Linked DNA regions of Homo sapiens: regions 2 and 3 are each linked to region 1. The links come from fine-mapping of genetic effects on gene expression. A gene starts in region 1. Each other region holds a variant in brackets. All regions are shown on one strand. Distances are between the middles of the regions. Region 1 holds the start of PRKD2 (protein kinase D2). Region 2 overlaps FKRP (fukutin related protein). Region 3 overlaps PRKD2 (protein kinase D2).

What was found.
Region 2: its variant is fine-mapped to the expression of PRKD2 in unexposed skin (GTEx, PIP above 0.99).
Region 3: its variant is fine-mapped to the expression of PRKD2 in prefrontal cortex (GTEx, PIP above 0.99). The same link has a PIP of 0.9 or more in anterior cingulate cortex, cerebral cortex and nucleus accumbens.

What each region holds. Positions count from the first base shown.
Region 1 is chr19:46,714,773-46,718,914 of GRCh38, forward strand. It overlaps PRKD2 (protein kinase D2), which reads right to left and starts at 2,342. Exons shown (of 18, transcript NM_016457.5): 1 at 1,359-2,342. The coding sequence starts at 1,598. LOC107987269 reads right to left here. Exons shown (of 4, transcript XM_017027568.2): 1 at 3,874-4,142; 2 at 3,581-3,730; 3 at 3,027-3,204; 4 at 1,762-2,405. The coding sequence ends at 2,039. RefSeq lists enhancers at 1-76, 3,588-3,637 and silencers at 2,238-2,287, 2,308-2,467.
Region 2 is chr19:46,751,596-46,755,737 of GRCh38, forward strand. It overlaps FKRP (fukutin related protein), which reads left to right. Exons shown (of 4, transcript NM_024301.5): 4 at 3,817-4,142. The coding sequence starts at 3,856. Among named protein-coding and RNA genes, the nearest start is that of STRN4, 7.2 kb to the left of the region's middle. The variant T/G (reference allele first, on the strand shown) is at 2,350.
Region 3 is chr19:46,682,647-46,686,788 of GRCh38, forward strand. All of the region lies in intron 14 of PRKD2 (protein kinase D2), which reads right to left. Among named protein-coding and RNA genes, the nearest start is that of DACT3, 24 kb to the left of the region's middle. The variant G/A (reference allele first, on the strand shown) is at 2,400.

The DNA of each region.
Region 1 (4,142 bases):
CCGTACCCCCACTGCCACCAGCTTCCCATGAAGTGGGCTGAGTTGGGGTGGTGAGCTGGGCCTGCGGGATTGAGGCATTTGGTGGGCAAAACCCTATCAGTTCTCACTGCTAAGAGAGAGTCCACAGAAGACCAGGACTGCCTTGGCCCTGACCCCTTGGGAAGTTTTTCTCTAAGCTTCAGTTTCCTTGTCTGTAGAATGGGGGAGCTGGCCCAGTTCCCCACGTTTCTCTGATGCCCAAAGGATTCATTTCCAGGAGTCTGAAAAGATTCTGGAATTTGGATATTTTGGGACTCCAACATGCTCACATTATAGAATTATACATTCTAGATTCCTACCTGGTATCACTATACATTTTAGGATTTCAATAACCTAAATAAGCGGTAATCTAATATTTTAATATTCTAGGAGTCTGACAAGCTAGGACTGTGCTCTTTGAATTCTTTAGCATTCAAGGACCTCATCCATCCAGCATTCTAAAATTCTAACATTTTAACTTTCTAGGATTCAACAATCTAGGAATCTAATATTCCAGCATTTTAATGTTTTACTATTTCACAAACCTAGAATTCTAATATTTGAACACGAACATGGGGGCAATTTAATTGCCTAGGATGCATATTCCAACAAGTTATGATTCTAATATTCTAACATTTCTACAGTCCAGTACTCCAACACAGAAGCCCACTATTCTTTTAACATTTCACGGTTTAGACGTGGAGTTCCACCTGGTTTCCTCTTGCCATAACACCCAGCTGCCCACCCTGGGGACCCTGGTGTCCAAAATTAAGAGTAGGCTAACAGCACTGTGACTAGGAAAGGGAATAGAGTCCCCAGGGTCTGTAGGAGTGCCTGCCCCTCCACACATATCTCAGGCTTAGGGGAGGGCAGAATTGGGCTCCGAGACCTCACTTGCCCCTGGCAGCTAACTCAAGCACCTGCACCCACACATGTCACCGGATCACCATGGCCAGCCCGGGTTCAATTTCTCCTGTTTCCACCAAATGGGAGGCCCGGGATGGGCCTGGACGTGGAGGTCCGCCGACATCTGCTGCCCCTTCCTCCCCTCTCTACACCTGGCTGGCCCCTCCCTTCCTCCCTGTTTGCTGCAGAAAACAACGACATGCAGGGACATGAAATTTGGGGAGGCCTCTGGGGCACCCCACCCCTGCCCAGTCCTCTCTCAAAGGGATGGTGGGGAGAGGGGCAATGGAGGGGGGCAATGCCCCCTATCCCTCCATCACCCAAAGCTCAGGTCTCCTTCCTCCCTCTTCCGCACACCAGGCCCCAGACCCCTCTGCCAGCGCCCCCTCCTTCAACCTCTCCCCGAGCTGGATCCAGGGAGCCTGCGCCCTCACCTTCTGGTCCACGATGGAACAGGCCAGCTGCTTCACATGAGCCAGCTCGGAGGCGGCGGGCAACAGCACGAACTCGCGGGTCAGCCCGATCTGGATGTGAAAGGAGACCCCGGAACCCGGGGCCGGGATCTGGGGCAGTAGCGGTGGCGGCGACTGCAGCTCTAGGCCGCCGGGGGGCGGAGGAGACCCCGGCCCGGGAGAGCCAGGGAGCCCGGCGGGATAAGAGGGGGCGGTGGCCATGGGGGGAGGCCGGGGACCGGCCGCCTGGAGCCCACCCGGGACCCGGCCGGGGGGCCCCGGGGGACCCTGGGTTCTAGATCCGCGGGATCTCGTGAGCAGGTGGTGGGAGAGCGGGGATCCGAGAAAAGATCTGGCAGGCGGAGGGGACCTGAGGATGGCGGGGTCCTGGGAAGGAGAGAAAGGCACTATAGTGGGTCAGAGGCCCGGAATCCAGGGCTCCCAGAAGATCAGAAAGGAGAAAAGTAGTGGGTTGGAGGTCCCAGCGATTGAGATTCCAAGAAGCCTGAGAGGAAATCTAGTAGGTCGGGGTCACAGGGATCAGGAGAGCCCGCGATTCAAAGGCCCCTTCCCTAGAGGAGGGATTGAGAAGGGGGCAGAGGGAATCCCAGGATCCAGTGCTCCAAGAAGAGGATCCCACTCAGAAGGCGGCCCGGGGGAATTCACCTTGGGGGTGGAGGGCAGGAGTCTCTGAGTCGGGGACCGAGTGGATTCCAGAGATAAAGGGGTTCGCAGGGACCCGACCGGCCAGGGGATGGGCAGAGGGGTCCCGAGGGCCGGAGTGGGTAGAAGGGAATCTCACGAGTCGCAGAAGTTGGAGAAAAGTTCGGTCGGGAGCCGTGAGGAAGGGGGCGTTGCCGGAGCGGGGTTGGGTGGGGGGCAGGGAGGGTCGCCAGGCGCCAGTAGCTCTTTTTCCCCCTCCAAAGTTTAAGTCGGCGGCGGCGGCGGCGGCCCAGGAGGAAGTGTCCGGAGCGACAGTGCAGTCGACCAATCGGCGCGGGCCTCGGCGACGTCAGAGAGGGGCGGAGCCTGCCGAGGGGCCGGGGGCGGAAGGGGAGGGTGGGCCCGGGGCCTCCGAGTTGGGGGCTGGACCTCCGCCTCCAGGGTCCGGGACAAGGGATGGTGTGAGGGATGGAGGGCAGGCAGGCGAGACCAGTTCCTTCCCTGAACACAGCCAAGCCTGGAAAGTTAACTTTTCCCTCGGCTGGACAGGGAGGGGAAACACTATCACCCACCGCCGGTCGCAGGCGTCGGGCTTGGAGGCCACTGGCCCTTTAAGGAGGGGAGCCCTCTCCGGCAGGCGTCCGGCGCCCATGGCAGGGGACGGGTGGGAAATCGGTATCAGGTCCCGGCCCGCTCTCTGGGTTCGGCCTCTCTGTTCTCCGAGCGTCACCCCTGCCCTCCCCGCCGCGTCCCAGCCCAGGGAAGGGGGTGCTGCAGAGCGTCCCCCGGCCCCAGCCCATTTAACACATGGAAAGACCGAGGCCTCCAGATGGGTAGGAAGGGGCTCGCCTTAGGTCTGTCTCCAGCGATGGTGGGCAAGGTGCATGGCGCTAACTGGATGGGTGGGGAGGGTCCATCCCCCCGCCCACCCCAACCCCGCCTTAGGATAGTGTGGGGCTGCCCCGAGGGAGGACAGCACACCCATACCACTTCATAGATGCAGAGTGTGTCTCCTGGGGATGTGGAGTACGTGTGCGTGTCTTTCTCTCCATGTGACTTTGGGTGAGTGGCTTCTCTGTGAGCCTCAGTCCCTCCATCTGTTGGGACTGTAATAGGACTGACCCCACATGGGATGGTGGGAGCCGATGCCATGGTATACTGGTGCCTGGAAACGCAGCAGTTCAGTAAGAGGTGGTTGTCTCTGATAATACGCGGAAAGGGGTGGCCACCTCCAGCACTCAGGCTTTGATGGGTGGGCACACCCATTCAGTCACCCAGCAAGTATCTGTGAGGACCTACTGGGTGCTGGGTGGGCCCTGCTGTAAAACTCCAGCCGCTACAGGGGTCAGGCTTGATCTCTCCTCCCCAGCTAATAATCAAATAGTGGCTACCATTTAGTTTACACAGAATAAGCTGAAGCCTCAGAGAAGCAAAACGTCTTGCCCAAGATCCCAGAGTGAAGTTGCTTGAGGGAAGCTGCCCCACCCACCCCTTTGATTGACAAGTCAAGGCCTAGGTTTGAGCTCTAAGAGAAGGGCCACCTGTCTGGCTGGGATGCTGGCAGGACTGGAAATGGCAGGGCTGGCTGAGGATGGGGGCTGCCAGAAGAGCCCCTCTTCCTGGTGTACGGCCGTTGGGGGTAGCTGAGGTCGGTACAGTATCGATTCTGTCACCACATCCGGGGGCTGGGGCTGAGGAAGGAAGTCTGAGGCTGGAGTGAAAACCCAAACCACCACCTGGGGAACTGCATTGAGCCCAGAGGGATGGGCAGGGAGCACACCACGTGGAGCCCACGAAGGCTCCCCTTGGCGTCATCTAAGGGCCTCCTGCCCACCTGCACCCTTTTTCCTGAAGGGCAGATGACTGTCCCAGCAAAACGCTGCCATGTCCTGAGTGTCCAGACAGCGGCCTCCATCCTTTCTCGTATGTTCACTGGGGCCTGCTGGGGGACTGGGGCACAGCCCTTTACAACCCAGGAACTGGGCATTAGTGCCCTGTGGCAGAGGTGCTAGGATTACCGAGGACGCCTGGCTGGTAGGTGGTGGAAGCCTCCTCGAGACAGGAGCAGCGGTCCCCTCCGTCTCATCTGGAGCATGTGGACAC
Region 2 (4,142 bases), 37 kb after region 1:
TCGCCCAGGCCGGACTGCGGACTGCAGTGGCACAATCTCGGCTCACTGCAAGCTCCGCTTCCCGGGTTCACGCCATTCTCCTGCCTCAGCCTCCCGAGTAGCTGGGACTACAGGCGCCCGCCACCGCGCCTGGCTAATTTTTTGTATTTTTAGTAGAGATGGGGTTTCACCATGTTGGCCAGGCTGGTCTTGAACTCCTGACCTCAGGCGATCTGCCCACCTCGCCCTCCCAAAGTGCTGGGATTACAGGCATGAGCCACCATGCCCAGCCCACCAAGATGCATTTTTAAATAGGATGGCCAAAGGAAGAGGTTATGGGAAGGTGACATTGGAGTGATGGGGGTGGGGGCCGGCGCAGTGGGGTGGATCGCCTGTGGCTATCTGGGATAAGAACACTCAGACAGAGGCAACAGGCAGTTCTGCAGCTGGAGTGTCCCAGGTGTGTTTGAAAGATGGTGTTGGTGGCCAATGTTCCTAGAGCTGAGTGAGTGAGTAGGAAAGGATGGAAGATCACGCGGGGCCTTATGGGCCACATTGAGTACCTTGGCTTTTCCTGCGAGGTGCCAGCCACAGAAGGGCCTGAGCAGAGCCAGGACAGGATGAAATGTGAGTTGTGACAGGATCTCTCGAGGTGCTGAATGAGGAACAGACCACAGGAACAGAAGCGGGAAGACAGTCTCTTGCTGTGACCTTCAAGGATATGCAGACTAACCATCTCATGTGTGTTCGGAGCTCCTATGTACCTAAACTCTAAGATTTTGAAGGGCTTGAGGTTCTGTGGTTGCAAAGGTTCCTGCCCCTGCACTAATGGGAGCTCCACAAGGGCAGGAATGTTGTCTGTCTCTGAGCATCTGTTGCTCTCTCTCCAGTGCCTAGAACAGTGCCTGGCATGTTGTAGGAGTTCAACAAATAGATGTTGAAGGATTGAAGGAAGGAAGAATCAATCTAAGGTCCAGAAGGCAATTCCAGGATTCTAAAGATTAGAAAGGACATGGTGACTCACGCCTGTAATCCTGGCACTTTGGGAGGCCGAGACGGAAGGATCACTTGAGGTCAGGAGTTCGAGACCAGCCTGGACAATATAGTGGGAGCCAGTCTCCACAAAAATGTGTTTGAAAAATTAGCCAGGCACAGTATTGCATGCCTGTAGTCCCAGCTACTCGGGAGACTGAGGCAGGAGGATGGCTTGAACACAGGAATTCGAGGCTGCAGTGAGCCGTGATTGCACCACTGCACTCAAGCTTGGGCAGCAGAGCAAGACGCTGTCCGTTTAAAAAATATATATATTTTGGCTGGGTGTGGTGGCTCACTCCTGTAATCCCAACATTTCTGGAGGCCAAGGCAGGCAGATCATGAGGTCAAGGGATTGAGACCATCCTGCCCAACATGGTGAAAACCCGTCTCTACTAAAAATACAAAAATTAGCCGGGCATGGTGGCACGCGCCTGTAGTCCCAGCTACTCAGGAGGCTGAGGCAAGAGAATCGCTTGAACCCTGGAGGCGGTGGTTGCAGTGAGCCAGTCGCACCACCGCACTCCAGCCTGGCAACAGAGTGAGACTCCGTCTCAAAAAAAAAAAAATTGTTTTTGGCTGGGCGCGGTGGCTCACGCCTGTAATCCCAGCACTTTGGGAGGCCACGGCGGGTGGATCACCTGAGGTCAGGAGTTCGAGACCAGCCTGACCAACATCCCGTCTCTACTAAAAATACAAAATTAGCCGGGTGTGGTGGCGCATGCCTGTAATCCCAGCTACTCAGGAGGCTGAGGCAGGAGAATCGCTTGAACGCGGGAGGCAGAGGTTGCAGTGAGATGAGATAGCTGCCACTGCACTCCAGCCTGGGCAACAGAGGGAGACTCCATCTCAAAAAAAAAAAAGAAAAGAAAAGAAATAAGAGCAGTTTGAGAAAATGTTCAGGGTGACTTAAACATACAGGTTGGGGAAAGCATGGCAAGAGATGAGGGTGGAATGGGGGGCAGACAAGGGGAATGTCAGAAGCAGCTTCCACTTTCTCCCCTGGGCACTGGGAGCCATGGCAAGTTCAGAGCAGGGGAAGGAGAGGTCCAACTTGTGCTTTAGGAAGACTCCTCTGGCTATCACGGGGAGAGGAATTGCCAGGAGACCAGGGGGAGGTTGGATGGGAATGTGGGTGGACCTGGTTGAGGAGGGAGCTGTGGAAATGGGGAGGAGGGGACAGAGGATTTAGGACATAGGGAGGTTAGTTGGATGCCCCCTCTCTCTAGGAAGGGCAGAAACCTACAAAAAGCCTTCATGGGGAAATTATTTGATCATCTGCTTGGAACCCAGAGCTATACCACCTGTGCTGGAGACCGGCCAGCCAAATCTTCAGTC[T/G]CGGTGGGGACAAGGAGACAGCGCCATCTGGTGCTTGAGGGTGTGGCCAATGAATGTGGAGGGGAGTGTCCTAAGGTTGGCAGCCTCTTTTGATGCAAGCTACCCCAGTTTTTTGTTGTTGTTGGGTATTTTGAGACAGGGTCTCACTCTTGTCCAGGCTGAGTGCAGTGGCATGATCATGGCTCACTGGCTCAAGCCATCCCCCCACCTCAGCATCCTGAGTGGCTGGGACCATAGGTGAGTAGCACCACACCCAGCTAATTTTTTATTTTTTGTAGAGATGAAGTCTCCTTATGTTACTCAGGTTGGTCTCGAACTCCTGGACTCAAGTGATCCTCCTGCCTTGGCCTCCCAAATTGCTGGGATCACAGGTGTGAGTCACTGTACCTGGCCCACCCCACTTTTGTTTTTTCTTTTTTTTTTTTAATTTTTATTTATTTATTTATTTATTTATTTATTTATTTTTTGAGACAGTCTCACTCTGTTGCCCAGGCTGGAGTGCAACGGTGCCATCTCGGCTCACTGTAACCTCCACCTCCCAGGTTCAAGTGATCCTCTTGCCTTGGCCTCCCAAATTGCTGAGATCACAGGCGTGAGTCACCATACCTGGCCCACCCCACTTTTGTTTTGTTTTTCTTGTTTTAAATTGGTTTGTTTATTTATTTATTTATTTATTTTTCGAGACGGAGTCTCGCTGTGTTGCCCAGGCTGGAGTGCAATGGTGCCATCTCCGCTCACTGCAACCTCCATCTCTCAGGTTCAAGCGATTTCCTGCCTCAGCCTCCTGAGTAGCTGGGCTTACAGGCACCCGCCCTCACACCCAGCTAACTTTTGTATTTTTAGTAGAGATGGGGTTTCACCGTGTTGGCCAGGCTGGTCTCAAACTCCTGACCTCAGGTAATCCACCTGCCTTGTCCTCTCAAAGTGATGGGATTACAGGCATAAGCCACCGCGCCCAGCCTAACCTTTTTTTTTCATTTATATTTTTCAGCACCCCACTTAAAATTTTTTTTAAATTCTGATTAAGTATATATAACATTAAATGTACCATCTTAACCATTTTTCAGCACACAGTTCAGTAGTGTTAAATGCATTCATACTGTTGTGCCAACAAACCTCTGGGACCTTTTCATCTTCCCAAACTGAAACTCTGTACTTATCAAACAACTCCCCATTCCCCCCTGCCTGCAACCCCTGGCACCCGTCATTCTACTTTATGTTTCTATTAGTTTGACTCACTCTGTTTAAAAAAAAAAAAAAAAATTCTGAGGACACCCAGAGTTGGTGCATGGCCCAGACTGGGAGGTCAGGGAGTGCTTCCTGGAGAAGGGGAAGTCAAAGCTGAAACCAAATAGGGAAAAGAAAGGGAATTGAGAAAGAGCTGTAGAAAGGGGCAAGGCTGAGGGTGGCAGAAGGGGGTGGTTCTGACAATCAGCTGCTGCCTTCCCTTTCGTCCCCCTCCCCCAGGATGCCCCGGAGGCCCAGCTAGCCCCAGACTTCGGCCCCATGCGGCTCACCCGCTGCCAGGCTGCCCTGGCGGCCGCCATCACCCTCAACCTTCTGGTCCTCTTCTATGTCTCGTGGCTGCAGCACCAGCCTAGGAATTCCCGGGCCCGGGGGCCCCGTCGTGCCTCTGCTGCCGGCCCCCGTGTCACCGTCCTGGTGCGGGAGTTCGAGGCATTTGACAACGCGGTGCCCGAGCTGGTAGACTCCTTCCTGCAGCAAGACCCAGCCCAGCCCGTGGTGGTGGCAGCCGACACGCTCCCCTACCCGCCCCTGGCCCTGCCCCGCAT
Region 3 (4,142 bases), 32 kb before region 1:
CTCCTGAATGCTACTGACAGAGCAGGCATTTCCAAGATCCAACTATGTGATTCTATTTTTTTTTTTTTTTTTTTTTTGAGACAGAGTCTTGCTCTGTCACTCAGGCCAGAGCACAGAGGCGGGATCACAGCTCACTGCACCTCGACCTCCCAGGCTAAATCCATCCTCCCACCTCAACCTCCCTAGTAACTGGGATTATAGGCACACACCATCACACCTGACTAATTTTTGTATTTGTAGAGACAGTGTCTCACCATGTTGCCCAGGCTGGTCTCAAACTCCTGCACTCAAGTGATCCACCCACCTCAGCCTCCCAAAGTGCTTGGATAACAGGCGTGAGCCACCCCACCTCACCCATTTTTTTTTTGAAGAGATGGAGTCTCCCTCTGTCACCCAGGCTGAAGTGCAGTATCATTCTACAGCCTCAAACTCCTGGGGTTAAGTGATCCTCCAGCCTCAGTCTCCCAAATAGCTAGGACTACAGGCATGTGCCACCACCACCATGTCGGGCTTTGATTCCTTTTTTTTTTTTTTTTTTGAGAAGGCCTCCTGATTCTCCTGCCTCAGCCTCCTGAGCAGCTGGGATTACAGGCACACACCACCATGCCCGGCTAATTTTTGTATTTTTAGTAGAGACGGGGTTTCATCATGTTGGTCAGGCTGGTCTTGAACTCCTGACCTCGTGATCCACCAACCTTGGCCTCCCAAAGTGCTGGGATTATAGGCGTGAGCCACTGTGCCCAGCCTGATTTCATTTTTAAAAAAAATATTTTTCATCCTTACAAAAAACTTTGGCTGGGCATGGTGACTCATGCCTGTAATCTCAGCACTTTGGAAGGCTGAGGCAGGTGGATCACCTGAGGTCAGGAGTTAGACACCATCCTGGCCAACATAGCAAAACCCTGCCTCTATTAAAAATACAAAAATTAGGCGTGGTGGTGGGCGCCTGTAGTCCCAGCTACTCGGGAGGCTGAGGCAGGAAAATCGCTTGAACTGGAGAGGTGGAGGTTGCAGTGAGTCGACATCGCGCCATTGCACTCCAGCCTGGGCGACAGAGTGAGATGCCATCTCAGAAAAAAAAAGAGTACCAACCTTACAGGTTGCTATAAGGTTTAAAGCATATCTAAAGATGCATGTAAAACGCTTAGGATAGCTAACCACTGTATGTTAGCTGTTACTGTTGTTGTTATTAGTTATTATTTTTGTGATGGCTTGTTGGTAAATATATTTGTTTGTGTCTCTTAAATAAAGCTTCTCCTGCTGTATCTGTTCCTATGATAAGGTGAGCTGATTAAAAAAAAAATTACCATTTGTAACCATTCATCTGTGAGAATCATATTTCTTGATTCTCTGTAACTCAAAATGCCAAGTACACCAGAAGCAATTGTACAACTGCAATTATTATCTGTCTCGGAGTTTAAATACTTGTGTATCTGTCTCAGAGTTTAAATACTTGTGTTTATTCTGATTGTTTTCTTTTTTAAAAAAATCTTTTTGTAGAGATGGCATCTCGCTATGTTGCCCAGGCTGGTCTTAAACTCCTGGCCTCAAATGATCTTCCCACCTCAGCTACCCAAACCTTGAGATAATAGGCACGACCCACCATGCCTGACCAACCTCCTCATTCTACAGACTGGGAGACCAAGCTGGAAAGATGCATGTGTTGTATATGTCATCTCCAGATTGTTTTTTTGAGATGGAGTCTCACTCTGTTGCCCACGCTGGAGTGCAACGGCATGACCTCGACTCACCACAAATTCCACCTCCCAGGTTCAAGCAATTCTTGTGCCTCAGCCTCCCCAGTAGCTGGGATTACAGGTGAATGCCACCACACCTGGCTAATTTTTGTATTATTAGTAAAGATGGGATTTCACCATGTTGGCCAGGCTGGTCTCAAAACTCCTGACCTCAGGTGATCCATCTGCCTTGGCCTCCCAAAGTTCTAGGATGACAGGCGTGAGCCACCTCGCCCCGCCCATTTCCAGATTTTGTCAGTTGATTTTCTCCCAGTTCATGTGAACAAAGAGGGCAGGTTAGGCCGGGCACGGTGGCTTACGCCTGTAATCCCAGCACTTTGGGAGGCTGAGGCGGGCAGATCACGAGATCAAAAGTTCAAGACCAGCCTGATCGACATGGTGAAACCCCATCTCTACTAAAAATACAAAAATCAGCCAGGAATGGTGGCGTGTGCCTGTGTTCCCAGCTACTCAGGAGGCTGAGGCAGGAGAATCATTTGAACCTGGGAGGCAGAGGTTGCAGTGAGCTGAGATAGCGCCACTGCACTCCAGCCTGGGCAACAGAGCGAGACTCCATCTCAAAAAAAAAAAACATTGGCCGGATATGGTGGCTCACGCCTGTAATCCCAGCATTTTGGGAGGCTGAGGCGGGTGGATCACGAG[G/A]TCAGAAGTTCAAGACTAGCCTGGCCAACATAGTGAAACCCCGTCTCTACTAAAAATACAAAAATTAGCCCGGTGTACTGGGACGCACCTGTAGTCCCAGCTACTCAGGAGGCTGAGGTGGGACAATTGTTTGAACCTGGGAGGCAGAGGTTGCAGTGAGCTGAGACTGTACTATTGCACTCCAGCCTGGGTGACAGAGTGAGACTTCGTCTCAAAAAAAAAAAAAAAAAAAGAAAAGAAAGAGGGCAGGTTGGAAGCTAGATAGATCCAGACTCAAATCTTGGCTGGAAAGCTACTTGGCTGTGACCTCGAGGGAGACTGCTATCTCCCTGAGCCTCAGTTTCCTCATCTATAAAATGGGGTTTATAACAATACCTACCTCCTAGGATGGTGGTGAGGCCTACATAAGCTCAGGAGGTAAAGGGCTTAGCACAGGGCTTAGGTGTGGGGCAGGCAAGAGCCCAGAAAGCAGAAATCTGCAGAGAGAGAGAGAGAGAGAAAGAAGAGCGAGCAGGCAAAAAGAGAGGAAGAGATGAAGGCCAGAAAGAGAAACCCCCTCAGCTGCTGAAAGCAGCCACCTGTGAGAACCATGATTCCTTTCCACACCTGAAGTCTGGATGTGGCCGGGCACGATGGCTCATGCCTGTAATCCCAGCACTTCAGGAGGCTGAGGCAGGCAGATGACTTGAGGTCAGGAGTTTGAGACTGGCCTGGGCAACATGATGAAACCCCATCTCTACTAAAATTACAAAAATTAGCCAGGCATGGTGGCACACACCTATAATCCCAGCTACTCGGGAGGCTGAGGTAGGAGAATCACCTGAACCCAGGGGGCAGAGGGTGCAGTGAGCCGAGATCGTGTCACTGCGCTCCAGCCTGGGCAACAAAGCGAGACTCTGTCTCAAAAATACATAAATAATAAAGTCTGGATGAGGGTGCATCAGTGGGTTTCTGTCCCCACCCCATAAGCCAGCCTGACAAACACAGGCACACTGCCTGAGAGGATAAGGGTGCTGGGCCAGGGTAAAGGGAACACAGCAACGATGGCTCTGAGACCCACAGAGATGTCTCAGAAGAAGGCAAGGCACCCACCAGAAGGAAGCCTTTCTAGGAAGGATGTGAAACACAGAAACCACACAAGGGGATATTTAACATCGTAAAAGTTCCACTCTATGGCCGGCTGGACGCAGTGGCTCATGCCTGTAACCCAGAACTTTGGGAGGCTGCAGCAAGAGGACCACTTAAGCCCAGGAGTTCGAGACCCAACATGGCAAGACCCTGTCTCTACAAAAACATAAAAAAAAATTAGCCAGGTGTAATGGCTCATGCCTGTGGTTCCAGCTAACTCAGGAGACTGAGATGGGAGGATCGCTCGAGCCCAGGAGTTCAAGACCAGCCTGGGCAACATGGCGAGACCTTGTCTCTACAAAAACATTAAAAAAAAAAAAAAAAAAAATTAGCTGGACGTGGTGGCTCATGCCTGTGGTTCCAGTTAACTCAGGAGGCTGAGATAGGAGAATTGCTTCAGCCTAGGAGTTTGAGGCTGCAGTGAACTATGATTACACCACTGCACTCCAGCCTGGGTGACAAAATGAGACCCTGTCTCAAAAAAAAAAATAAAATAGGCCAGGCGCGGTGGCTCACACCTGTAATCCCAGCACTTTGGGAGGCCGAGGCGGGTGGATCACGAGGTCAGGAGATCGAGACCATCCTGGTTAACACAGTGAGACCCTGTCTCTACTG